2 separate regions of the Homo sapiens genome follow, and region 1 is linked to region 2. Evidence: fine-mapped expression QTL. Tissue or cell type: whole blood. Region 2 holds a variant in brackets; the other region holds the start of a gene. All regions are shown on one strand. Distances are between the middles of the regions.

Evidence for each region. PIP is the estimated chance that this variant, and not a neighbour inherited with it, causes the effect.
Region 1: SLC4A1 starts here. The variant in region 2 is the best candidate, but not a certain one, in a credible set for the expression of SLC4A1 in whole blood (INTERVAL, PIP 0.88).

Annotation. Positions count from the first base shown.
Region 1 is chr17:44,263,213-44,275,781 of GRCh38, reverse strand. It overlaps SLC4A1 (solute carrier family 4 member 1 (Diego blood group)), which reads left to right and starts at 7,647. Exons shown (of 20, transcript NM_000342.4): 1 at 7,647-7,728. It overlaps LOC105371790 (a long non-coding RNA gene), which reads left to right and starts at 101. Exons shown (of 4, transcript XR_934778.4): 1 at 101-367; 2 at 470-531; 3 at 1,387-1,504; 4 at 1,604-1,747.
Region 2 is chr17:44,226,875-44,239,460 of GRCh38, reverse strand. It overlaps the pseudogene SHC1P2. Among named protein-coding and RNA genes, the nearest start is that of UBTF, 13 kb to the right of the region's middle. RefSeq lists an enhancer at 1,079-1,710 and silencers at 3,614-3,814, 4,114-4,314. The variant C/A (reference allele first, on the strand shown) is at 5,610.

The DNA.
Region 1 (12,569 bases), 36 kb before region 2:
GGGTCTTGCTATGTTGCCCAAGCTGGTCTCAAACTCCTGACCTCAAGTGATCCGCCTGCCTTGGCCTCCCAAAGTGCTGGGATTGCAGGTGTGAGCCACCGCGCCCAGCCAAGAAATAAACTTCTATCTTGCTTAAGCCACTAAAATTTTGAGTTTTCTCTCGCACACAGTCTGTCTTGATTTTCTTTGCCACAGCGAGAGTGGCTGGGGTTTTTGTCCAATTGGGTGATGAAAGAAGGCCTTAGAAGGCCTTTTGCAGGGGTAATATTTGACCTGAGACTTGCCTGGTGAGAAGGAGCCAGCCATGGGGAGATCAGGGAGGAGCATCCCGACAGGATGGCACTCGTGCTTTCGAGGAACAGAGGAGGTGAGCAGAGGGCAGGAGTTGCCCGGAGTAGGGAATGGGTGTGGGGAAGTCACAAAGGATTTTACACTCAGGATGATATCCTCTGATTTATGTTTCTAAAAGGTCACTCTGACTGCTGTGTGGCAACCGCATTGTAGGGGGCCTAAGTGAAGCCAGGAGGCCAGGTGAGAGACTCCTGGGGTGACGGAGGAGCATGATGAGGGGCCCGGCGGGTGGGCAGTGGAGATGGGGAGAAGAGGATAGAAGCATGAAGCTAGATCCAGTAGAATGAGCTGTTATTGGAAGTGGGGATTGGGAGTGAGGGAAAATTAAGAGTCAAGGAAGCAACTGGGTTTGGGGATTTGAGGAACCAAGTGGATGGAGAGGACTGGAGGAGGCTCAGGGTTTGTTTCTTTGCTTGCTTGTGTTTAGGGAAAGGATTCGAATAAAATAAGACTGTTAATGTATCACTTGTTTGACCTTTCTCAAATATTAGTTTTCTTTTCTTTTTGAGGCATGGTCTTGCCCTGTCACCCAGGCTGGAGGGCAGTGGCACTATCTTGGTTCACTGCAACCTCCACCGCTCAGGTTCAAGCAATTCTCGTGCCTCAGCTTCTCGAGTAGCTGGGATTACAGATGTGTGCCACCATGCCTGGCTAATTTTTGTATTTTTAGTGGAGATAGGGTTTCACCATGTTGACTATGCTGGTCTCGAACTCCTGACCTCAAGTGATCTGCCCGCCTTGACCTCCCAAAGTGCGGGGATTATAGGCATGAGCCACTGCATCCAGCCCAAATATTAGTTTTTTCACCTATACTTTTGGCAGTGGGGTAAGGGACAGAATTTTTTTTAATAGAGACAGGGTTTCACTGTGTTGCCCAGGTTGGTCTCAAACTCTCGGTCTCAAGTGATCCTCCTGCCTCAGCCTCCCAAAGTGCTGGAATTACAGGCATGTGCCACTGCACCCGGCAAAGGGACGGATTTTTGTATTGATTTCATTCAAGTCAACAAACTCATATAAACTATCAACTACCGGCAGAGCCCTGGTCAGGTTTAAGGACCTGAGTGAGGGTCCTTGTCCTTGGGAACATGATCTGTGGAGGAGACACACAGGACCATGGACCATCTCAGTAGGGAGCAGAGAGGCAATGACACAGGTAGGTGCTGGGCTGGGACCTGTCAATCTCCAGGGGTTGGAAGGTTGGCGGGAGAGAAGGAATTCACAGAGCTGGGAATGCAAACAATGAACCTTGAAGGTCAAAGCTTTGGTCCAGCAAGTTTGGAAAGGAAAGGCATCTCAGGACAAGGGAACAGTGCATGGAAAGATCCAGAAGCCAAGAGAACAGAGAACATTCAGAGAAAGGTGAGTGTCAAGACTCAGAGAGCTCACAGCCTGCCTTGAGCCCCTCAAGCAGATCCTCCTCCCAGGACACCCCCGCACACTGAACTCTCTGCAGAGCCAAGCTGACCCCACAGCTCTCCAAACCTGCCCTTGTTTTTGTTTTTTAAATTATTGAATTTATTTATTATTATTTTTTGAGATAGGGTCTTCCTCTGTTTTACAGGCTGGAGTGCGTGGTAGGATCTCAGCTCACTGCAACCTGGGCTCCGCCTCCTGGGCTCAAGTGATTGTCATGCCTCAGCCCTCTGAGGAGTTGGGATTACAGGCATGCGCCACCACACTCAGCAAATGTTTGTGTTTTTAGTAGAAACAGGGTTTCACCTTGTTGGCCAGGCTGCTCTCGATCTCCTGACCTCAAGTGATCTGCTTGCCTCAGCCTCCCAAAGTGCTGAGATTACAGGTGTGAGCCACCAAAATAGTTATTTATTTTCTTTATTAGAGACAGGGTCTCACTCACTCAGGCAGGAGTGCAGTGGTGCCATCATAGCTCACTGCAGTCTTGAACTCCTGGACTCAAGCGATCTTCCCATCTCAGCCTCCCAGGTAGCTAGGGCTACAGGCCTGTGTCACCACACTTGGCTAAAAAGGTAACTTTTTTTTTTTTTACTTTTTGTAGAGATGGTGTCTTGCTATGTTGCTCAGGCTGGTCTTGAGAACTCCTGGCTTCAAGGAATTCTCCCACCTTGGCCTCCCAAAGTGCCGATTACAGGCCTGAGCCATCACACTGGCCCAAACCTGCCCTTTGACCTCCCTCCTCCTCCCATTTGGAGAAACCGCCCCCATCCTTCAAAGTCCTGCTGGAACTCCCACTTCCCCTCTTCCTCCTCCTCAGCTCTCAGGGGACCCTGCAGAACTCCCAGCGTGTATCTCTGGAAGGATGCTCAGGGTGAGTTATTTTTGCACAGATCTGGCCTGGCTGCCCCTAGACAGTAGAAACCGCCTTCCTCCCAGGACTCCCCAGGGCCCAGCCGAGGGTGCTGGTGATGAGGGTCACGGGGCACAGGGTTCTGAGGGTAGGGGGACTGGACTGGCTCAGCTCTGAGAGCCTTTCCAGTTCCAGCCCCATCCCCCAGCTCTCCCGCCTGATTCCCCGCACCTCCCCACTCCCTCACCAGGTGATAATGATGACTGGTCCATTCCTAACGTGTGTGCACCCTGCCCCACTTCCATCCACCCCCAGACTGCTCAGGGCTGCACCTCACAACTCTGGGCCCTCCACCAGCATGGTCTCCCTGGGGACCTCACACTTCCCGCATTACTTGTCCCTCCGGGCCCATCCCTTGTTTACATCCCTTATCCTCCCTCTGAGGTTTGTATACACTCCCTGCTGGACATGAACTCCTATCGCTGCGTGGTCCCTGCCCTGCTGCCTTGGCTCAGGCTGCCTGATACACGAGCCCCGTGGCTCCTTCTCCCGTTCACTACTCAGCCCCTTGCCTGCATCTAGAGAAGACTATTTTCAAGCTCTTTCCCACCTGTCATCCCATGTGGTCACAACAGTCCAGAGAGGAAAAGGAAGTCCAGAGAGAGGGTGTGGTCAGCTCAAGATCACACAGGGCTTCCAACCCGAGGAGGTCCTCTACAGCCCACATGTCCCAGCCGTGGGACACTTCCCTTTAATGCAAAATCCCAGGGGTCTGAGTCCCTAGTCTATGAGGGCACAGAAAGCCGTATCTTCACCGAGCAATGTACATAGGTCCCTCCAGGCCACCTTGGCCAGACCACGTCCCCTCCTCCAGCCTCCTGGCTCCAGCCACCACACCTCCCTTCAGGTGCTCCCCCGTGCCATCTGGATGTCCACTCACCTTAGCTGCCACCGCAAACCATGGCCTGCTCTGCCCCAAACATGGTCTCAGACCCTCCCCTCCATCCGCATGGGGTAACAGAGGCAGGTGATCCAGTCCAGCAAGCTTTGCTGAGGACTTCAGGATAGCAGCTGAGAATTACCGGCTGAGCATGGAAGAAAAGATGTAAGGGTCTGCTCACATGGAATGGGTCTGCCCTCAGCAGTCACAGGCCAAGCTGACACCTCATTGCCAATCCCATTGCAAGAGACAGTTCCCTTAACCATCATCGAACCCCCGTCCTACCTAGTCTCAGCTTCTACTCCTTAGAGTAAGATAGAGAAAGCAGCTGGCCCTTCTAAGGCCACTACCCAGTCCTCACTTCTCACTTGAGGGCTGACTGCATCCAGGATGATTGAAAATGAGAAAGTAAGGCCAGGTGCAGTGGCTCACACCTGATATCCCAGCACTTTGGGAGGCCGAGGTGGGAAGATCACTTGAGGCCAGGAGTTTGAGACCAGCCTGGGCAACATAACAAGACCCTGTCTACAAAAAATACGAAACTCGCTGGGTGTAGTGGTGTGCGCCTGTAGTCCCCGCTACTCAGGAGGCTGAGGTAGGAGGATTACTTGAGCCGGGGAGGTGGAGGTTGCAGTGAGCCGAGATCACGCCACTGCACTTCAGCCTGGGTGACAGAGTGCGATTCTGTATCAAAAAAAAAAAAAAAAGAAAGAAAGAAAGAAAGAAAGAAAGAAAGAAAGAAAAAGGAAAAAGAAAATGAGAAAGTCTTGTCCTTTCAGAAGAACTCCACCCTCTGCCCACAGAGTCTCCCTCTGGGACAACCCATCCCAACCCGTGATCTGAGCTGTATGCTCTGAAATAACATCATACGGGGTTCGCCCTCAGCTCACTTCATTCCTGCTGACATCTGCCTGGGCTCCCGGCTTTCTCCCAAAGGAGTATAAATTTGAACGAGGACACATATGGACCTTGGGGAGGGGAATCTGAGGGCTCCTCCCTTAGTGCTCTAGGAAGTGGTAGAGCAGTAGTGACAAGAGGGACTCCAAGGAAAGAGCAGGATGGGCTGTGAGTGTGTGAAGGGCCACTCAGGGCACAGCTCAAGGCATCTTGGGGCTCTGCTCAAGCCCTCCAGGTGCCAATCTTTCTGACCACGACCATCTCTGTCCAGCCCGGGGCATAGTCAAAGGGAGGTAAGACTCCCTCGTGCCTTGCTTCCCCAGAGGGCAGCCTAGTGCCAGGCGCATGGAGGCCTTCAGATGAATCAAACTGACCCAAGTCCAAATTGGAATAAAATGAGTGAGGGTTGCCCTCACCTCTTCCTGGAAAAGCATAAACAAGAGTAAATGTGGGCCAGGCAAGGTGGCTCACACCTGTAATCCCAGCACTTTGGGAGGCCGAAGTGGGCAGATTACTTGAAGTCGGGAGTTTGAGACCAGCCTGGCCAACATGGTGAAACTCTACTAAAAATACAAAAATTAGCTGGGTGTGGTGTTGGGCGTCTGTAATCCCAGCTACTCAAGAGGCTAAGGCAGGAGAATCACTTGAACCCGGGCGGTGGAGGTTGCAGTGAGCTGAAATTGAGCCACTGCATTCCAGCCTGGGCGACAGAGTGAGACTCCATTTCAAAAAAAAACAAAAAACAAAAGAGGCCTGACACAGTGGCTTATACCTGTAATCCCAGCATTCTGGGAGGCAGACGAATCATCTGAGGTCAGGAGTTCAAGACCAGCCTGGCCAACATGGTGAAATCCCATCTCTACTAAAAATACAAAAAGTAGCCCGGCATGGTGGTGGGCGCCTATAATCCCAGCTACTTGGGAGGCTGAGGCAGGAGAATCGCTTAAACCCAGGAGGCGGAGGTTGCAGTGAGCCGAGATTGCGCCATTGCACTCTAGCCTGGTCAACAAGAGCGAAACACCGCCTCAAAAAAAAAAAAAAAAAAAAAAAAAAAAAGATTAAATGTGACATTGGGCAGAGTTAGAAAAGAAACATCTACATTCAGCCAGGGCAACAAGAATGATCTAGAACATGTGGTGTGAGTGGAAAGAACCAGCGTCCAAGCTGCTGTGCCTCTGCCTGGCTGTCTGGTGGGGCTGCCAGGGGGTGGTGCCTGCAGAACAGCCAAACAGCTGGCCAGATTTTCCCCCTAAGCCAGATGATGCCATTTGTTGTTCCACCCCCAGCCAGCTGTCAGTCCTTCCCGGGCCCCAGGAGAGGTGCCCCATTGCTGCCCCCTGCACTCAGCTGTCTCTGACTCCTAGGGCAGGCAGAGGGGCAAGGGGACTGGGCACACTGGCTGGGTCAAGGAGTCAAAGGTCTTCACTTGGCACTCACTGCCACAGGCCATAGGAAGCCAACCCAGTGTGGGCCCAGGGTTTGGGACAGATCCCACCAGCTGGAGCAGGAGAAGGCACCTCCAGCCCCCTTTAGCCAGGGCCTCTCTCTGTTCCTGACCGGCACCAAGGCCTGGGTGGTGGGAGGGGCTCAGATCTGGCAGAACACCAGCTGTCCAGGCAGATTAGCAGGTCGGAGTGCCCACGCTGGCTTCACCAGCCCAGAGGACTTGGGCAAGTCACTGCTCTCCTTTTGCTGCCCTTTCTCTGTGAGAGGTGAATAAACATCGTAAACAGTGTTGTCCTCAGATGGGCTTAGAGAGCTTGGCAAGCTAGAGCGTGTGAAGTCCAGGCATGGTGCACTGCACGGGGCAGGTGCTGGTCCGTTGGGCATTCTTTTTCCTGGGAAAGCCTCTCTGTGGCTTTGTTTCCTCCTCTGTGAAGTGGGGGGTTTGTAGGAATCCAGCGTGACCACAAGATGAAGGCCTCAGCATAATTCCTGGAACCGAGGTCCTCCATAAACAGGATTCTGCCTCAGGACCCGTGTCCCTCCCCTTTTCTCTCTCCACAGGACTCAGCCCCTGGCAGGCTTGTGGTGCAGATAGTGAATGGTCTTGCAGTGGCGGGATTTGTCCACCTGTGTGTCCCTGTGTTTGAGTTTCTTCTGCTTGAGTCTGAACTTCAGGCTGGTGGCCACATAACCCAACACTCTCACTTTACGGATGAGAAAACAGAAGCCCAGAGAGGGCCAGGGACTTGTCCAGGTTCCTTCAGCCAGTCCATGCCGGAGCTGTACTAGGACACCCTCCTCTCTGTGCCCAGAGCGATGGCCACAACACCCCTTTCTGTCTGCTTGAAAACCCCTCTTCATTCTTGCTGATCTGTACTCATCTTTCAGTCTCTGCCTCTTTAGCAACCAGAGCCTACGAAGAGGTGACCAGGCTCTGGTCACCCCCCAGAGCAGAGAAACTGGGGGTGTAGGGGTGGGAACTGAAGGGGAGGGGCATGGCAGGGGCTGAGAATGCGGCTGTTCTGGCCTGGGGGCCTGAGCCAGGCTGCCTACAGAGGAGCCAGTATGCCCAGACATTAGAGCTTTGTGAGTTGAAGAGCTTGGTGTGGGGATGGTTGTTTTGTTGAGCTGACATTGTTTCAGGTTGACTGAATGTCAGTGTCTTAGTGTCCAGGAGCCAGCTCTTTAGAACCAGCCAGGGTCTTGGGGAGAATGTGGCTGGGGCATCCTAGTCTGGATCAAGGAGGGGAGGGGGCTGTCCGTGCCCCGTGAGTGCTGAGCAGTTCCCTGTGGAGAAAACTGCAGAGGAGGAGTGAGTCCTAGCGTGGATACCAAGAGAGACGAGAGGAGCAGGCGCCCTTGCACCTTGGGGCCAGAGCAGAAGGGCCTGGCCAGAGTGGAGGATGGACAGAGGCAGGACAGGGACCTCTGGAGGCTGGTGCCTTCCTGCCAGGGCACTGGGAGCCCTGAGGACAGAGCGATCAAACCTTCATCCACAAAGGAAGAGTCAGGAGAACCATGGGGACCAGGAGGGCCCCGAGAGGCCTTGGGGGCTGGCCAGGCGGGTGGGGTGGGCCAGACTCACAGCTGTCCAGATGTGGGTAAGAGATAACTCTGTTTACTGGGCACCCAGTGGGAGCGGGGTGGGGGGTGTGGGAAGGGGCTCCCAGGGCCAGTGGGGCGGGCAGATTAGGAGGCGGGGGCATGAGTCAGGGGTTTGCGAGCTGCCCCTGGGGCGCTGGTGCTGTCAGAACGAGTGGGAACGTAGCTGGTCGCAGAGGGCACCAGCGGCTGCAGGACTTCACCAAGGGACCCTGAGGCTCGTGAGCAGGTGGGCAGGGCAGGGAGGGGCTGGGGATGGTCCTTCGGTGCCTGCCCTGAGGGCTTCTACAGGTGCCCAGCCTGAATCTATGCCCAGGTGGGCCAGGCTCCTGACCTCCAAGGGGGTGCAGGTGGGTGGGGTGAGAATGTTACCATGCATATGTTGCCCCTAAGGGAACAGGCCCATTGGCACCTGAAAAGAGGAGGGTGGCAGGTGGTCAATGGCAGCAGAGGTATGTGTGGCTCCGGTGCGTGTGTTGCGGGGGGTATCTGATCCCCTCCAGGTATGGGCCCTTGTCAGCTTGTTGGATCCCACAGGGTCAGGTCTTGTCCACCCCAGACTCCTTCCTTCCTAATGGGGTCCTCAGACCACCCCCTCTCCCACCTAGGAGGCAGGATGTCAGCTGACACAGTATCCCCTTTGGGACACTTCCAGGGGTCTACCTGGGGCACCTGGCTCCACGCCCAGCGTGGTCAGTATTGGAGGGAACTGCAGAGCCTCCTACCACATGAGAATCTCAAAACACTTAGCTCAGGCTAATTCCATGGGAACTGAGGGCAAATCAGAGGGGAAATGAAGATGGCAAGTCTGACTGTAACCCCAGCAGCAAGGGATAATGACAGCAAACATTTTCATAGCGCTCCTTATATGCTAGGCACTGTTCTAAGCCCCTTACAAATGTAAATTTCCTTAATGCTTACAACAGGTCTATGAGATGGGCATCATTATCATCACCCCCATTTTACAGATGAGAAAACTGAGGCACAGAGAGTTGAAGTCACACGCCGTTAGTAAATGGCAGGGCTGGGCTTTGAATCCAGGCAGTCCGACTGCAGAGTCCGTGATCTTAACAACTAACTCTAAACCAGCTAACAGTTGTTTTGTTGGAGGCAACTTAGCATAGTGCTTAGGGATGTGGCTGGAGTCAGGTAGTCCAGGCTGTAACCTGGCTCTGATACCTACCTGCTGGGTGGCTGAAGCAGGTAAATGTCTCTGAACCTCAGCTTTCGCATCTGTAGAATGGATTAATGACATTACTCTTCTTCCTCTTAGAATCCCCAAACCACTTCACAGAATGCTTTGGGGATTCTAAGAGTTAAGGCAGTACAGTTCTTTGTGCAGTTCGGGCTGATTACACAAAGGTGGTGCCATACCACTAGGAAGTTGTCCCTGTCATCTGGTCAATCCCCTCTCCCGCCGTGTCTTCCCAGCTGTGCTATACCTTCTAGGCTCAGATGTCCCGCTCACCCTTATCTGGCCTGGCCCTGGCCAGCTGGCTAGCTGGCCAGGTGTTTGGTGCACTTCCAAAACTTGGGGCAGCGATCTGGGTCCAGGCCCTTATCAGTGCTAGGCAGCACAAGGCCTGCAGCTGGGGGGCGGCCTGGCTGGCGGGTGGCAATCTGGGTCATGGGTGCGCCCTGTAAGTCTCCAACTGAGCTCAAGGCACCTCTGTTTTCCCCTCTTCTCTCTCACTGATGTCTCAGAACCCTGGCAGGAAGGCACTCCCATTGTACAGATGGGGTGACTGAGGCCTACAGGCTGGAAGCTGCCCAAGGCCCTTCAGCCAGTCAGTGGCAGAGAGGCAGCCTGGACCTCTGGATTCTGCAGCTCTGAGGGCCCCTCTGACCATTCCACTCCTCAGATAGGCAACCAAGGCCACAGTCCCAGCCCCATGGGTGGGACTTTTAGTACCTAAGGCTTAGACACCCTGGAGGCCTTAGCATCTGAGGCCTAAGAAAGTGCATGGGCAAGTCCAGAGAAGGAAGAAAGTGAATAAAGATGGAAGAGAAAGAGGAACTTTGGGAGAAGCAGAGAGGGAGGAGGAAAAAGAGAGAGAAGAGGTGGGTCATCAGGGTCCTCAGGAGCAAAGCCAAGCCCTGCAGTAGGGACTACCTCGTCCTCAGGTCCAGGACCCCTCCCCCGCACCCCATCACTTGCCCCACCTGCCAAGGCAGGGGTCTCTCCCATTCTCCAGTCTGGTGAGATCCAGTAATCCCCTCCCTACCCCCAGGACTGCAGGGTCACCCATTCCTCAGAAAGAAGGCTGTTTGCACATCCCTTTCTTTCTTTTTTTTTTTTTTTTGAGACGGAGTCTCGCTCTGTTGCCCAGGCTGGAGTGCAGTGGCGCAATCTCGGTTCACTGCAACCTCTGCCCCCTGGTTCAAGGGATTCTCCTGCCTCAGCTTCCTGAGTAGCTGGGATTACAGGCATGCGCCACCACGCCTGGCTAATTTTTGTATTTTCAGTAGAGATGGGGTTTCACCATGTTGGCCAGGCTCCCTGCCCCATGCCCTCACGTGGCATTTTCCCACCTTGCTCAGCCCACCTGTTCAGCTCCACCCAGGCATGCCTCACATCTGGACTCCCAGCCCTTCACATCTCACCAGTGCTTGGCTGGGCACGGTGGCTCACACCTGTAATCCCAGCACTTTGGGAGGCCGAGGTGGGTGGATCACGAGGTCAGGAGATTGAGACCATCCTGGCTAACACAGTGAAACCCCGTCTCTACTAAAAAAATACAAAAAATTAGCTGGGCGTGGTGGCGGGCGCCTGTAGTCCCAGCTACTCGGGAGGCTGAGGCAGGAGAATGGCGTGAACCCAGGAGGCGGAGCTTGCAGTGAGCCAAGATCGCGCCACTGCACTCCAGACTGGGAGAGAGAGCAAGACTGTGTCTCAAAAACAAGAAAAACTCACCTGTGTTTTTAGGCTAGCGCCAGTGACCCCTCCTCCGGTGACTCCACCCCCGAGTGCTGCAAACGCGTCCTGCTCTTCTTCCTGCCATACAGATCCTTGGCACTCAGCACTTTCGGCCCCTGGGGTCCATGTCACCTCGGAAGCACTGAGGCTGCCCTGTGTTCCCAGTTTGCCTCCCTGTCGCGGCTAGGAGCTTCCCCAGAGTAGAGACGGGCCTTGTTCAGCTCAGCACCCCCTCCCACCAGCCCCCAGTGCTCAGCACCCCCTCCCACCAGCCCCCAGTGATCAGCAGCCCCTCCCCACAGCCCCCAGTGCTCGGCACCCCCTCCCACAGCCCCCAGTGCTCAGCACCCCCTCCCCACAGCCCCCAGTGCTCGGCACCCCCTCCCCACAGCCTCCAGTGCTCAACACAATGCCAGGCACAGAGTGGGAACCTTTGTTGAACCGACCCAATTGCCTGTCACCTCAATGCCCTGTGCTGTAGTGGGCGAGGAGGGAAAAGAGGCACCTCCACACCCAGTCTGGGGCCACCTTAGGTGACCCCTGTCCTCCCCTTGGACCTGCCCTCACATTCCTGGGGAAGGCACACCTTCCTCTCTGCTAGGGACACAACTGAGAAAACTGAGACCCCGAGCTCAGAGGCCTCTTGGCTGGGGCCTAGTCATCCTGGCTCCCCAGTCTCAGAGCCCCAACCCCGCAATAGGGAGCCATTCTTACAATCATTCAGTAAATGTTTATTGAGCACCTACTACGTGACAGCCACTCTGCTAGGAGTAGTGAATTTCGTGGGGATGGGACATACAGGGTCTTCGCACTCAGGTAGTTTCCCTTCCAAAAGCATTGTCAGATAATATGAACACAAATCAATCAAGAAACCACGTATTGGTTTTTTTGTTTTGTTTTGTTTTCCTTCTAAAGAGTCTCACTCTGTCACCCAGGCTGGAGTGCAGTGGTGCCATCTTGGCTCACTGCAACCTCTGCCTCCCAGGCTTAGGCAATCCTCCCACCTCAGCCTCTCAAGTAGCTGGGACTACAGGTATACGTCACCACACCCAGCTAATTTTTGTATTTTTGTAGACATGTGGTTTCACTATGTTGCCCAGTTGGTCTCGGACTCCTGAGCTCAAGCAATCTGCCTGCCTCAGCCTCCCAAAATGTTAGGATTACAGGTGTGAGCCACCACGCCCAACCAAGAAACCATTTAAAAATTAGTCAGGCATGGTGGTGTGTGCTAGCTACTCTGGAGGCTGAGGTGGGAGGTTCACTTAAGTCTAGGAGTTTGAGACTGATGTGAGCTGTAATCATGCCACTGCATTCTAGCCTGGATAACAGAGGGAGACCCGCTCTCAAAAAAATAAAAAAGAAGAAAGAAATCAGCAGCCCACACTGAGATAGTGAGACCCTGTTTCTACACACAGATTTTTTTTTTTTTAATTACCTGGGCACTGTGGCATGCCTATAATTCCAGTTACTCAGGAGGCTGGGCCAGGAGGATCCCTGGGGCCCAGGAGTTCAAGGCTGCAGTGAACTATGATCATGCCACTGCACTCTAAGCCTGGGTGACAGAGTGAGACTCTGTCTCAAAAAGGAAGAGAGAGAGAGAGGAAGGAAGGAAGGAAGCAGGGATGGAGGAAGGAAGGAAGGAAGGAAGGAAGGAAGGAGGGAAGGGAGGGAAGGAGGGAGGGAAAAGAAACCAGAACATGACAGATTGGGTCAAGGTGGTGGCCAGGGAGGGCCTCTGAAGAGGAGACATTTGGGCCGAGATGTGAGAAGGTCTGAGGTATTGGGGGGAGGGTGTCCGGGATATGGACAGCTGGATGTGCAAAGGCCCTGGGACAGGAAAGGGCTTAGTGAGTTCTAGGAACCACAGGAGGCCAATAGGCTAGGTGGGGAGAGAGCGAGAGAGACGGAGTGCAAGATGGGGTCAGGGAGAGAAGTAGGACCACATCGTCCAGACCTGCGGACCACTCCCAAGGATGCTGCAGCCCATGCCCGGTGGGCAGCAGCTATTTCTGAGAGAAGAGCATGTGTTTAGAGCCCCTCAGGGGAGCTAAGCCCCCCTGAAGAAGAGACCAGCAGGTCCCCTGGTATTAGCTGAGTCCCAGGGATGGGCAAGAAAAGAAGCCAGGTGAAGACTAGAGAATGAAGGAGGGAGA
Region 2 (12,586 bases):
TTTTCCTAGGCAGAGTGTGTGTGTCCCTGGGTACTTGAGATTAGGGAGTGGTGATGACTCTTAACGAGCATGCTGCCTTCAAGCATCTGTTTAACAAAGCACATCTTGCACCGCCCTTAATCCATTTAACCCTGAGTGGACACAGCACATGTTTCAGAGAGCACAGGGTTGGGGGTAAGGTCATAGATCAACAGGATCCCAAGGCAGAAGAATTTTTCTTAGTACAGAACAAAATGAAAAGTCTCCCATGTCTACTTCTTTCTACACAGACACAGCAACTATCCGATTTCTCAATCTTTTCCCCACCTTTCCCCCTTTTCTATTCCACAAAACCGCCATTGTCATCATGGCCCGTTCTCAATGAGCTGTTGGGTACACCTCCCAGACGGGGTGGTGGCCGGGCAGAGGGGCTCCTCACTTCCCAGTAGGGGCGGCCGGGCAGAGGCGCCCCTCACCTCCCGGACGGGGCGGCTGGCCGGGCAGGGGGCTGACCCCCCACCTCCCTCCCGGACGAGGCGTCTCGCCTGGCGGGGGGCTGACCCCCCCACCTCCCTCCCAGACGGGGCGGCTGGCCGGGCGGGGGGCTGACCCCCCCACCTCCCTCCCGGACGGGGTGGCTGGCCGGGCGGGGGGCTGACCCCCCCACCTCCCTCCCGGACGGGGCGGCTGGCCAGGCGGGGGGGCTGACCCCCCCCCACCTCCCTCCCGGACGTGGCGGCTGGCCGGGCAGAGGGGCTCCTCACTTCCCAGTAGGGGCGGCCGGGCAGAGGCGCCCCTCACCTCCCAGACAGGGCGGCTGGCTGGGCGGGGGGCTGATCCCCTCACCTCCCTCCCGGACGGGGCGGCTGGCCGGGCAGAGGGGCTCCTCGCTTCCCAGTAGGGGCGGCCGGGCAGAGGCGCCCCTCACCTCCCGGACGGGGCGGCTGGCTGGGCGGGGGGCTGACCCCCCCACCTCCCTCCCGGACGGGGCGGCTGGCCGGGCGGGGGGCTGACCCCCCCACCTCCCTCCCGGACGGGGCGGCTGGCCGGGCGGGGGGCTGACTCCCCCACCTCCCTCCCGGATGGGGCGGCTGGCCGAGCAGAGGGGCTCCTCACTTCCCAGTAGGGGCGGCCGGGCAGAGGCGCCCTCACCTCCCGGACGGGGTGGCTGGCCGGGTGGGGGGCTGACCCCCCACCTCCCTCCCGGACGGGGCGGCTGGCCTGGCGGGGGCTGACCCCCACCTCCCTTCCGGACGGGGTGGCTGCCGGGCGGAGACGCTCCTCACTTCCCAGACGGGGTGGCAGCCGGGCGGAGGAGCTCCTCACTTCTCAGATGGGGCAGTTGCCAGGTGGAGGGTCTCCTCACTTCTCAGACGGGGTGGCCGGGCAGAGACGCTCCTCACCTCCCAGACGGGGTCGCGGCCGGGCCGAGGTGCTCCTCACATCCCAGACGGGGCGGCGGGGCAGAGGCGCTCCCCACATCTCAGAGGATGGGCGGCCGGGCAGAGACGCTCCTCACTTCCTAGATGGGATGGTGGCCGGGAAGAGACTCTCCTCACTTTCCAGACTGGGCAGCCAGGCAGAGGGGCTCCTCACATCCCAGACTATGCGCGGCCAGGCAGAGACGCTCCTCACTTCCCAGACGGGGTAGCGGCCGGGCAGAGGCTGCAATCTCGGCACTTTGGGGGGCCAAGGCAGGCGGCTGGGAGGTGGAGGTTGTAGCCGAGATCACGCCACTGCACTCCAGCCTGGGCACCGTTGAGCACTGAGTTAACGAGACTCCGTCTGCAATCCCGGCACCTCGGGAGGCCGAGGCTGGCGGATCACTCGCGGTTAGGAGCTGGAGACCAGCCCGGCCAACACAGCGAAACCCCGTCTCCACCAAAAAAATACGAAAACCCGTCAGGCGTGGCGGCGCGCGCCTGCGATCGCAGGCACTCGGCAGGCTGAGGCAGGAGAATCAGGCAGGGAGGTTGCAGTGAGCCGAGATGGCAGCAGCACAGTCCAGCTTCGGCTCGGCATGAGAGGGAGACCGTGGAAAGAGAGGGAGAGGGAGAGGAGGGAGAGGGAGAGGGAGAGGGAGAGGGGCTCCTATCATCTCTTAAAGGTCTCACCTTTCTCGTTTTTTTTGTTTTTTTTTTTGAGATGGAGTTTGGCTCTTGTCACCCAGGCTGGAGTGCAACAGCATGGTGGCAGGGTCTCGGCTCACCGCAACCTCCACCTTCCGGGTTCAAGCGATTCTCCTACCTCAGCCTCCCAAGTAGCTGGGAATACAGGCGCCCGCCACCATGCCAGTTTAATTCTCGTATTTTTAGTAGAGATACAGTTTCACCATGTTGGCCAGGCTGGCAAACTCCTGACCTCAGGTGATCTGCCCGCCTGGACCTCCCAAAGTGCTGGGATTACAGGCATGAGCCACTGTGCCTGGCCAGCCTCACCTTTCTCTTTTGCTCTCAGTCTTCTAGGCCCCTTCCCTCTTTGGGCCCTATCAAGTTGTTGAGAGTTGTTGGGTGGGGGATGGTGTCACTCCGGGACTGGGTAATAAACCCTTTTCTCCTCTGATCACTGCTAACAAGGTGTGTCATATTTGAGAGGTTTGTTTCTGTCTCTTTGTATATGAGGGGTCTGGGTTCTCAGTTTTGCTGACCATATGGAACAGTTCTAGGGCTGTGTGACAGGATGTGACCCAGGGCTGGCAGGCTGCAGGGACATGAGCTGTGGAAATTGAGAGGGCAGAGAGCAGAATGGGCTGAAGAAGTAGCTTTCAGTATTTATTGAGCACATACTATGTGCTAGGCACAGTTCCAGGTGCTTTCCGTGTTCTTACTCTTTTCCTCCTCACAATAACCCTGTGAGGTCGGCTTTAGCCCCATCTTACTGATAAGGAAACTGAAGCACAGAGAAGATAAGGAACTCACCCTAGCTCATACGGCTTCTAAGAGGCAGGGTAGGATTCAGATGCACGGCTGTTTGACCAAGAGCCTGGTGTCCTTCTACACCTCTATGCCATCAAGCTTATGAAGTCCAGAGACAGAATGCTTGTGGAGAAGAGGAACTAGACTTTGGACACTGGATAGAATTCAAGTTGGGGGCATGCACGGTGGCTCACATCTGTAATCCCAGCACTTTGGGAGGCTGAGGTGGGCGGATCACCTGAGGTCAGGAGTTTGAGACCAGTCTGGCCAACATGGTGAAACCCTGTCTCTACTAAATATACAAAAAATAGCCGGGTGTGGGGGCGTGCACCTGTAATCCCAGCTACTTGGGAGGCTGAGGCAGGACAATTGCTTGAACCCGGGAGGTGGAGGTTGCAGTGAGCCGAGATGAGATGGTGCCAGTGCGCTCCAGCCTGGGCGACAAGAGCAAAACTCCGTCTCAAAAAGAAAGGAATTCAATTTGTTCTCAAGGGTCAGGGAGAATGGAGGGTGGGGTACCTTCCAGGTAGGTAGGGGAGTGGTTTGGCCAAGGGCAGGGAGGTGGGAATGGTGTATCGACAGCACAGGGAAGTCTTGACTGCAGAGGTGAGTCCTTCTAGAAGAGGTTCATATAAGATGGAAAAAGCAAGGTCAAGTTTGAAGAACCCTAACTGCCCAGAAGGGTTTGGACTTGATTCAGGAGGCATTAGGGAGTCTTGCAGGTTCTTGGGCTGGGAAGTGACATGATTAAAGTGATTCACCTGGAAGTGAATTCATACAGGAGGAATTCGCTGTAAGGAGGCAAACTGGGAATCTGTGCATGTCAGTGAGTCAGTAGCAGAGGCGGGCTGACATAGCCCATGCTATCATAGGACCTGCAGTCAGCATGGGGCCCGACGTTCAGCAAGAGTGAGCACTGGCTGGCCATGGTGCTCACGCCTGTAATCCCAGCACCTTGGGAGGGGCTGAGGTGGGCAGATGCCTTGAGCCCAGGAGTTTGAGACCAGCCTGGGCAATGTGGCAAAACCCTGTCTCAAAAAAAAAAAAAAATTGTGGCCAGGCGTGGTGGCAAGCGCCTATAGTCTCAGTATTCCAGAGGCTGCAGTGGGAGGATCACTTGAGCCCAGGAGGTCAAGGCTTCAGTGAGCCGTGATCGCGCCACTGCACTCCAGCCTGGGTGACAGAGTGAGACCTTGTCTCAAAAACAAAACAAAAGAAAACACTAGTATTGTGCAGGGAGTGGCAGGAGCAGAGGGAGCTGGAGTAAGGCAGGGCTTCTTGGAGGGAGAGACATTTGATCTGACTCCTGAGGGACAAGCAGTAACTGTCCCAGTGATGAGAGAGGTGGAATATCTTGAAGGAATAGAGTCTATGAAATGGAATATATCTGAGAAGTAGCCTGAAGAGAAATGGGTGAAATTTGCTCAGCAAAGTGAAGTGACATCATGGAAAGCCTGCTGGGTTGGCAGACCACATGGTGACCTCAGAAGGTTTTCTTTCCCATGTACCTGGGCCCAGAGCCAGCTGACAGGAGGTAAGGAAGGAAGGGCTGGGTGAGGAAGCAGAAGCAGGAGGTGTGGGTTATGGCCTGAGGGCCCAGCAGGAGTGCTCAGCTGACTTTTTCCCAAGATGGACCAGAAAATGCTTTTCAGGCTGGGGGACACATGCACACTCACACACATCAAATCATCTCTCTACTTCCATTAAAACATATCTTTGTATTTTCAGATTTCAAAAATAATACATGTATAAAACACTTAAATTACAGAATGATTTAACATACAGAATAAAAATCTCCAGTAATTTGGCCAAGTGTGGTGGCGCATGCCTGTAATCCCAGCAGTTTGGGAGGCCGAGGCAGGAGGATCACTTGAGGTCAGGAGTTCAAGACCAGCCTGGGCAACATGGTGAGACTTTGTGTCTACTAAAAATTTAAAAATTAGCCAGGTGTGGTGGTGTTCACCTGTAGTCCCAGCTACTCGAGAGGCTAAGGTGGGAGGATCACTTGAGCCCAGGACTTTGAGGCTGCAGTGAGCTATGATGGTACCACTGCTCTCCAGCAGAGTAAGACAGAGTGGGAGGCTGTTTCTAAAAACACAAAACAAAAAACAAAAAAACCTCCAGTAATGACTGTTAATAATTTAGAGTATATTCCTCCAGATTTATTATATGTGAACACTAATTTACATATATATTTTTCCTTTTTTTTTTTTTTTTTTGAGACAGGGTCTCGCTCTGTCTCCCAGGCTGGAGTGCAGTGGCACGATCTTGGCTCACTGCAACCTCCACCTCCTGGGCTCAAGTGATTTTCCCACCTCAGCCTCCCTAGTAGCTGGGACTACAGGCATGTTTCAGTACATCCAGCTAATTTTTTGTATTTTTGGTAGAGGTAGGGTTTCATCATGTTGCCCAGGCTGGTCTCGAACTCTTGGACTCAAGTGATTTCACCCATCTCAGGCTCCCAAAGTGCTGGGATTACAGGCGTGAGCCACTGCGCCAAGCCTACCTTACATATATTTTAAAATAGAGCATGTCTATATATGTGTGTGCATTTTATTTTTTTTAAATTTTAGACAGCGTCCCGCTCTGTCGCCTAGGCTGGAGTACAGTGGCTCAATCATGGCTCACTGCAGCCTCAACCCCCCAGGCTCCAGTAATCCTCCTACCTCAGCCTCTGGAGTAGCTAGGACGACAGGCACCCACCACCACACCCAG[C/A]CAATTAAAAAATAAAATTTTGTAGAGACAAGGTCTTCCTATGTTGCGTAGGCTGGTCTCAAACTCCTGGGCCCAAGCGATCCTCCCACCTCGACCTCCCAGAGTGCTGGGATTATAGGCATGAGTCATTCCATCTGGCCCTTATATAATTTTTTAAACAAAACTTCAAAATACATGAAGTTAAAACTAATGGAACTGAAAGGAGAAACAGATAAATCTACCATTATGGCAGGAACTACCACTACTCTCTCAATAATTGATAGAACTAGTGGACAGAAAATCATGAAGGATATAGAACACCTAAATAGCACCAGCAACCAACTTGACCTAATTTATCTTTAGGGTACACTCCACCCAACTACAGCAGAATACATATTCTTTTCAAATGCCCATGGATCATTCACCTTAAAATAGACAACATTCTGGGCCACAAACACAAACCTTAACAAATTTAAAGGAATGGAAATCACAGAAAACATAGCCTATGTTCATAACATTATTAAATTATAAATCAATAACAGAAAGACATCTAGCAAATCCCTAAATATTTGTTTCTGTTTGTTTTGAGATAGAGTCTCTCTCTGTCGCCCAGGCTGGAGTACAGTGGCGCGATCTCGGCTCACTGCAACCTCCGCCTCCCGGGTTCAAGCAATTCTCCTGCCTCAGCCTCCCAAGTAGCTGGGATTACAGGTGTGTGCCACTATGACCAGCTAATTTTTGTATTTTTAATAGAGACAACGGGGTTTTACCATGTTGGCCAGGCTGCTCTCAAACTCCTGACCTCAAATGATCTGCTCGCCTTGGCCTCCCAAAGTGTTGGGATTACAGGCATGAGCCACAGCGCCAGGCCACAAATCCCTAAGTATTTGGAAAGTAAAACAATGCACTTCTAAATAACCCATAGACCAAAGCTAAAGTCATAAGTGAAATTGAGAAATATTTTGAACTAAAGGAGGATGAAAACATATCAAAATTTGTGAGATGCAATGAAGTAGTGCTTAGGGGGAAACAGAGCATTAAATACCTAGATTAAAAAATAAGAGGCCAGGCGAGCAGGCTCACGCCTGTAATCTCAGCACTTTGGGAGGCTAAGGCAGGCGGATCATTTGAGGTCAACAGAGTGAGACTCCATCTCAAAAAAAAAAAAAAAAAAAGAAAGAAAGAAAGAAAGAAAGAAAAAGAAAATAAGAAATATCTCAAATCAATAACCTAAACTCCTGCTATAAGAAACTAGAAAAAATGAGCAAATTAAACCCAAAGCAGACAAAAGGAAGGAAATAATAAAGATAGAATAGAAATCAATGAAATTGGCCAGGCTTGGTGGCTCAGGTCTGTAATCCCAGCACTTTGGGAGGCCAAGACAGGTGGGTCACTTGAGGTCAGGAGTTCGAGACCAGCCCGGCCAACATGGTGAAACCCCATCTCTAATAAAAATACAAAAATTAGCCGGGCATGGTGGTGCACACCTATCGTCCTGGCTACTCGGGAGGCTGAGATGGCACAGCCGCTTGAACCTGAGAGACAGAGTTTGCAGTGAGCCGAGATAGCACCACTGCACTCCAGCCTGGGTAACTGAGTGAGTCACTCAAAAAAAAAAAAAAAAATCAATGAAATTAAGAACAAACAGTAGAGGAAATCAATGAAACGAAAAGCTAGTTCTCTGAAAAAAAATGAGTAAAATTTATAAACCTTTGGTCAGACTGACCAAGAAAAACAGAGAAGAGACACAAATTATAAATAACAGAAATGGAAGACATCACTACAGACCCTAAAAACATTAAAAGAATAACAAAGGAATACTACAAACATAAATACCCATACATTTGACAACTTAAACGAAATGGTAAAATTCCTATTGGCAGGGCGCGGTGGCTCACTCCTGTAATCCCAGCACTTTGGGAGGCTGAGGCAGGCGGATCGCTTGAGGCCAGGAGTTTGAGACCAGCCTGGCCAACATGGTGAGACCCTGTTTCTACTAAAACTACAAAAATTAGCTGGCCGTGGTGGTGCGCCCAGCTACTTGGGAGGCTGAGGCAGGAGAATTGCTTGAGCCTGGGAGGCAGAGGTTGCAATGAGCTGAGATCGCGCTACTACACTCCAGCCTGGGCAACAAGAGCAAAACTCCACCTCAAAAAATAATAATAATAATTAATTAAATAAATTTAAAAGTAAAATAAAGTTCCTATACGTCAGGATAAAAAAAATCCTATCATCTGTGCTGTGTGGGAATTTTTTTTCTTTTTTCTTTTCTTTTGAGACAGGGTCTCACTCTGTCATCCACGCTGGAGTGCAGTGGAGCAATCATGGCTCACTGCAGCCTCAACCTCCTGGGTTCCAGTGATCCTCCTGCCTCAGCCTCCTGAGTAGCTGGGATCACAGGCATGAGGGCACTATACCCGGCTAATTTTTGTATTTTTTTGTAGAGAGAGGGTCTTGCTATGTTGCCCAGACTGGTCTCAAACTCCTGGGCTCAAGCAATCCCGTTGCTTTGGCCTTCCAAAGTGCTGGGATTATAGGCATGCGCTACCACACCCAACCCATATATAGTTTTTTAAACAGAGTGAAAGACACAAACAGCCAAATTCACTCAAAACGAAATAGAGGATTTCAACTGGGCAAGGTGGCTCACGCCTATAATCCCAACACTTTGGAGTTGGGATTATAAGCCCAGGGGTTCAAGATCAGCCTGGGCAACATAGCAAGACTTCATCTCTTAAAAAAAAAAAAAAAAAAAACAGGAAGAAGAGTTTCCAGTCTAACATGTAAAGAGCTTGGAAATCACCTCTACATTCAAACAAGTAAAAAGCTGAACAAACTGAAAAATCAACCCTTCTTAGATCCATCAGAGAAGTGGGGTCACACAGCAAATTGCTATGCCCTAAATTGGTGAGACAGTCAGATAAAATCACAATTTCTTTTTTTCTTCGACAGGCTCTTGCTCTGTCTGGCGTACAGTGGCAAAATGATAGCTCACTGCAGCCTCAAATACCTGGGCTCAAGCGATTCTTCCATCTCAGCCTCTCTAATAGTTGGGACTACAAGCACGAGCCACCACACCCAGCTAATTTTTCAATTTTTGGTAGAGATGGGGTCTCCCTATGTTGTCCAGGCTGGTCTTGAACTACTGGGCTCAAGCAATACTCCTGCCTCAGCCTCCCAAAGTGCTGGGATTACAGGCATAAGCCACCACGCCCAGCCTGAGAATCACAGTTGATGGGAGCAGAAACTCACAAGCAGTAACCTCCACAGGAACCAGTGCCAGGGTAGAAAAACCTGAAGTGTAATTGACAAATTGCTGTAGGCTCAATGTGAGCAACTCAGAAAGTTAAAAACTGCAGGGGGAGAGGGTCAGGGGTTAGTGAGGCGGGAAGTGAGCGTAATAAAGTTTCTCTAGGGAGGCAGAGCCAGGGGAGAAAGTTGGAGTGGTGACCTAAGCAGGCAGTGGTGTGATCTGGAATCAAATCGGCCTGTGGTGCGGTGCGGAGACTCCATGAGGCCCTGCTTTGCTCTTCCTCTTGGCCCTGCTCTATGTCCGCTGGGACCACTTCCTTCCTGTCCTCACTTTGCTAGCTCCAATCCACAGCTGTTGTAGCAGAGGATGCTAATGGCCCAGGCTCACTTCCATGGGCTATATGGAGGTCCTGCAATCAATGCGTGCCCTCGACTTCAACACCCAACTCAGGTCACGCAGGGAGGCAGGCCATCAGTCTGGTGTGTGATGCTGTGCTGGGTGTGAAGGGGGTGACAAGGAAGAGAAAGCCCTGTAGCTGCCTGCTCAGCTCTATCCTGGGAAGGAGTAACCTGAAATTTGCTGGAATGCCAATCACTCTCACCGTCTCCACCAGCAGCCTCAACCTCATGGCCGCAGACTGCAAACAGGACACAGCTGAGGATGTTGCCTACGTTGCCAAAGACCCTGTGAATCAGAGAGCCTGCCACATTCTGGAGTGTCCCAAAGGCCCTCCCAGGATGTCATTAGCACCATTGGCCAGGCCTTCGAGTTGTGCTTCAAACAATACCTCACGAACCCACCCCAACTGCTCACCCCCAAGACAGGATGGCTGGCTTTGATGGATCAGCTTGGGATGAGGAGGAGGAAGAGCCACCTGACCATTAGTACTATAATGACGTCCCTGGGAAGGAACCTTCTCTTGGGGAGTTGGTAGACATGAGGCTTCGGGAAGGAGCCACTTCAGAGGCTGCTTGACCCACTCCACCCAGTGTCTGGACCCCCAGCCACTTGGGAGCTACACTGCCTGTGGGATAGCCTGCTGGGGGAGATCCAGAAGTCCGCAAACAGATGCCACCTCCACCACCCTGTCCAGCAGGCAGAGAGCTCTTCAATGATCCCTATATCAACGTCCAGAACCTAGACAAGGCCCGGCAAGCAGAAGGTGGTGCTAGGCCCCCCCATCCTGCCATCAATCGCAGTGCACCCTGGGACCTCTTTGACATGAAGCCCTTTAAAGATGCTCTTTGGGTGCCTCCCCCTCCCCAGTGGTTTCCATGGCTGAGCAGCTCCAAGGGGAGCCCTGGTTCCACGGGAAGCTGAGCCAGCGAGAGGCTGAGGCATTGCTGCAGCTCCATGGCGACTTCCTGGTGCGGGAGAGCATGACCAAGGCCAGTATGTGCTTACTGGCTTGCAGAGTGGGCTGCCTAAGCACCTGCTATTGGTGGACCCTGAAGGACTGGTTTGGACAAAGGATCACTGCTTTGAGAGTGTCAATCCCAGCACTTTGGGAGACCAAGCCAGGCAGATCACAAGGTCAGGAGATCGAGACCATCCTGGCTAATACGGTGAAACCCGGTCTCTACTAAAAATACAAAAAATTAGCTGGGCGTGGTGGCAGGCGCCCGTAGTCCCTACTCAGGAGGCTGAGGCAGGAGAATAGTGTGAACCCAGGAGGCGGAGCTTGCAGTGAGCCGAGATCACGCCACTGTACTCCAGCCTGGGCAACAGAGCGAGACTCCGTCTCAAAAAAAAAAAGAGAGTGTCAGTCACCTCATCAGCTACCACATGGACAATCACTGGCCTATCATCTCTGTGGGCAGTGAACTGTATCTACAGCAACCTGTGAAGTGGAAACTGTGATCTGCCCCAGCGCCCTCTTCCAGAAGATTCCACCCTATTCCCTAACTCTCGGGACCTCATTTGGGAGTGTTCTGTGGGTTTGGCCTTGTGTCAGAGCTGAGGGTAGTGTGGACACTGGGTTTAGTATCCAGCTAAGTGAGAGAGTTTGAGTCAGAAGCCTGGGGGAGAATCTTGCTTCTCCCCAAACATTAATCACCCGAAGTATTAATGGACAGAGTGGCCCCTTACCTACGCCTTTCCTGTGCCAACCCGATGTCCCTTCCCCAAGAAGGTGAGTGCTTGTCATGGAAAATGTCCTGTGGTGATAGGCCCAGTGGAGCAGTCACCCTTCTGGGCAAGGGGGAACAAATCACACCTCTGAGCTTCAGGGTACCCCAGACACCTCTCCACAACCCCCACCCCATGTTTAAACTTTGTGCCTTTGACCACCTCCTAGGTCTGAAGATATTTTATGCAAAGAGTTCGTGCCAGATGTGGTGGCTCACACCTGTAATCCCAGCACTTTGGGAGGCCGAGGCGGATGGATCACTTGAGGTCAGGAGTTCAAGACCAGTCTGGCCAACATGGCGAAAACCCGTCTCTACTAAAAGTACAAAATTAGCTGGGTGTAGTGGCATGCACCTATAATCCTAGTTACTAAGGAGGCTGAGGCAGGAGAATCGCTTGAACCCGGGAGGTGGAGGTTGCAGTGAGCCAAGATTGTACCACTACACTCCCGCCTGGACGACAGAGTGAGATTCCATCTCAAAAAAAAAAAAAAAAAGAGTTCATGGGTCCCTGAATTCAATGACAGTGATGCCGACACCTTCTTGGCTTCTGAGACCCTGTTTTCTCCTTGCTCAGCACCCTCTCTGGTTTGGGTTGGGAGAATAGAGACAAGAATGGCATATATCCCCTCTCCCTGGGGATATGCAACCCTTAGAGATTGTCCCAGAGCCCCCCTCCCAGCCAGGGGGAAGATGGACCTGTCCCTTGCTCAGTGCCTCCTGGCCAGAGCCCCTCAATCCATTTCATAAACCCTGCCCTCCCATGATGCATGCCTATTGTACTCTATAGCCAAAATGTAGCCCTTCCTCCTGGAGCCTCTGCCCTGCCTCCCTTTCTGGGAGAGGAGGGGTGGGGGGTGACTGAATTTGGGCTTCGTGTACAGTAAACTCTCCCAGGTGGATTTTGTGGAGGTGGGAAAAGGGGCATTGAGACTCTAAAGCAGTAGACCATCCCTGAATACTATCTGCAGAGTTGGAACTGCATTCTTTTAAAATTTTATATGCATATATTTTAGGGATATAGACTTACTTTCCTAATTTTGTTTTCCATGGCTTATTCTTGAGCACAAAATGATAATCAATTATTAAATTTATACATCACCTTTTTGAATTTTCCAAGACCTTTTGCAGCTCTTGGCATTTTCGTTGCCCAGGCCTGTGAGGTAACTGGGATCAGCAGCATTATTATTTATACCAGAGACCTGAGGCAGATGAAACTGATTTCCACCTAGGACTAGAAAAACTTGGGCCTCTTACCACGAGACTGGGAGGCAGAAGTTTGCCCAAATGCATGTTAGTTTCACAAAGGGGAAATGCAAAACCTGCAGTTCCTGAGTACCTTTTACAGGCGCAGCCCTGCCTAGGCCCGGAGTGGACACACGACAGCAAGCCGGGCTTTCTCTTTAGGCCTTGTGGATAAGAGAGAGTGGGCTGTTTCCATCCTGGCCTCCTTTTGTCGTTGTTGGGATGTTTCCCCGGGTCTCACTTGTAGCAAAAGGAAAACTCTTCATTAAAGTCCGTATTTCTTCTAAACATAAAAAATAAATAAATAAAAAATAAAAATTGCAGGTGGACTAGGTCAGATGGGGCCCTATATTTTTGTGAGTTTTACCTCTAAG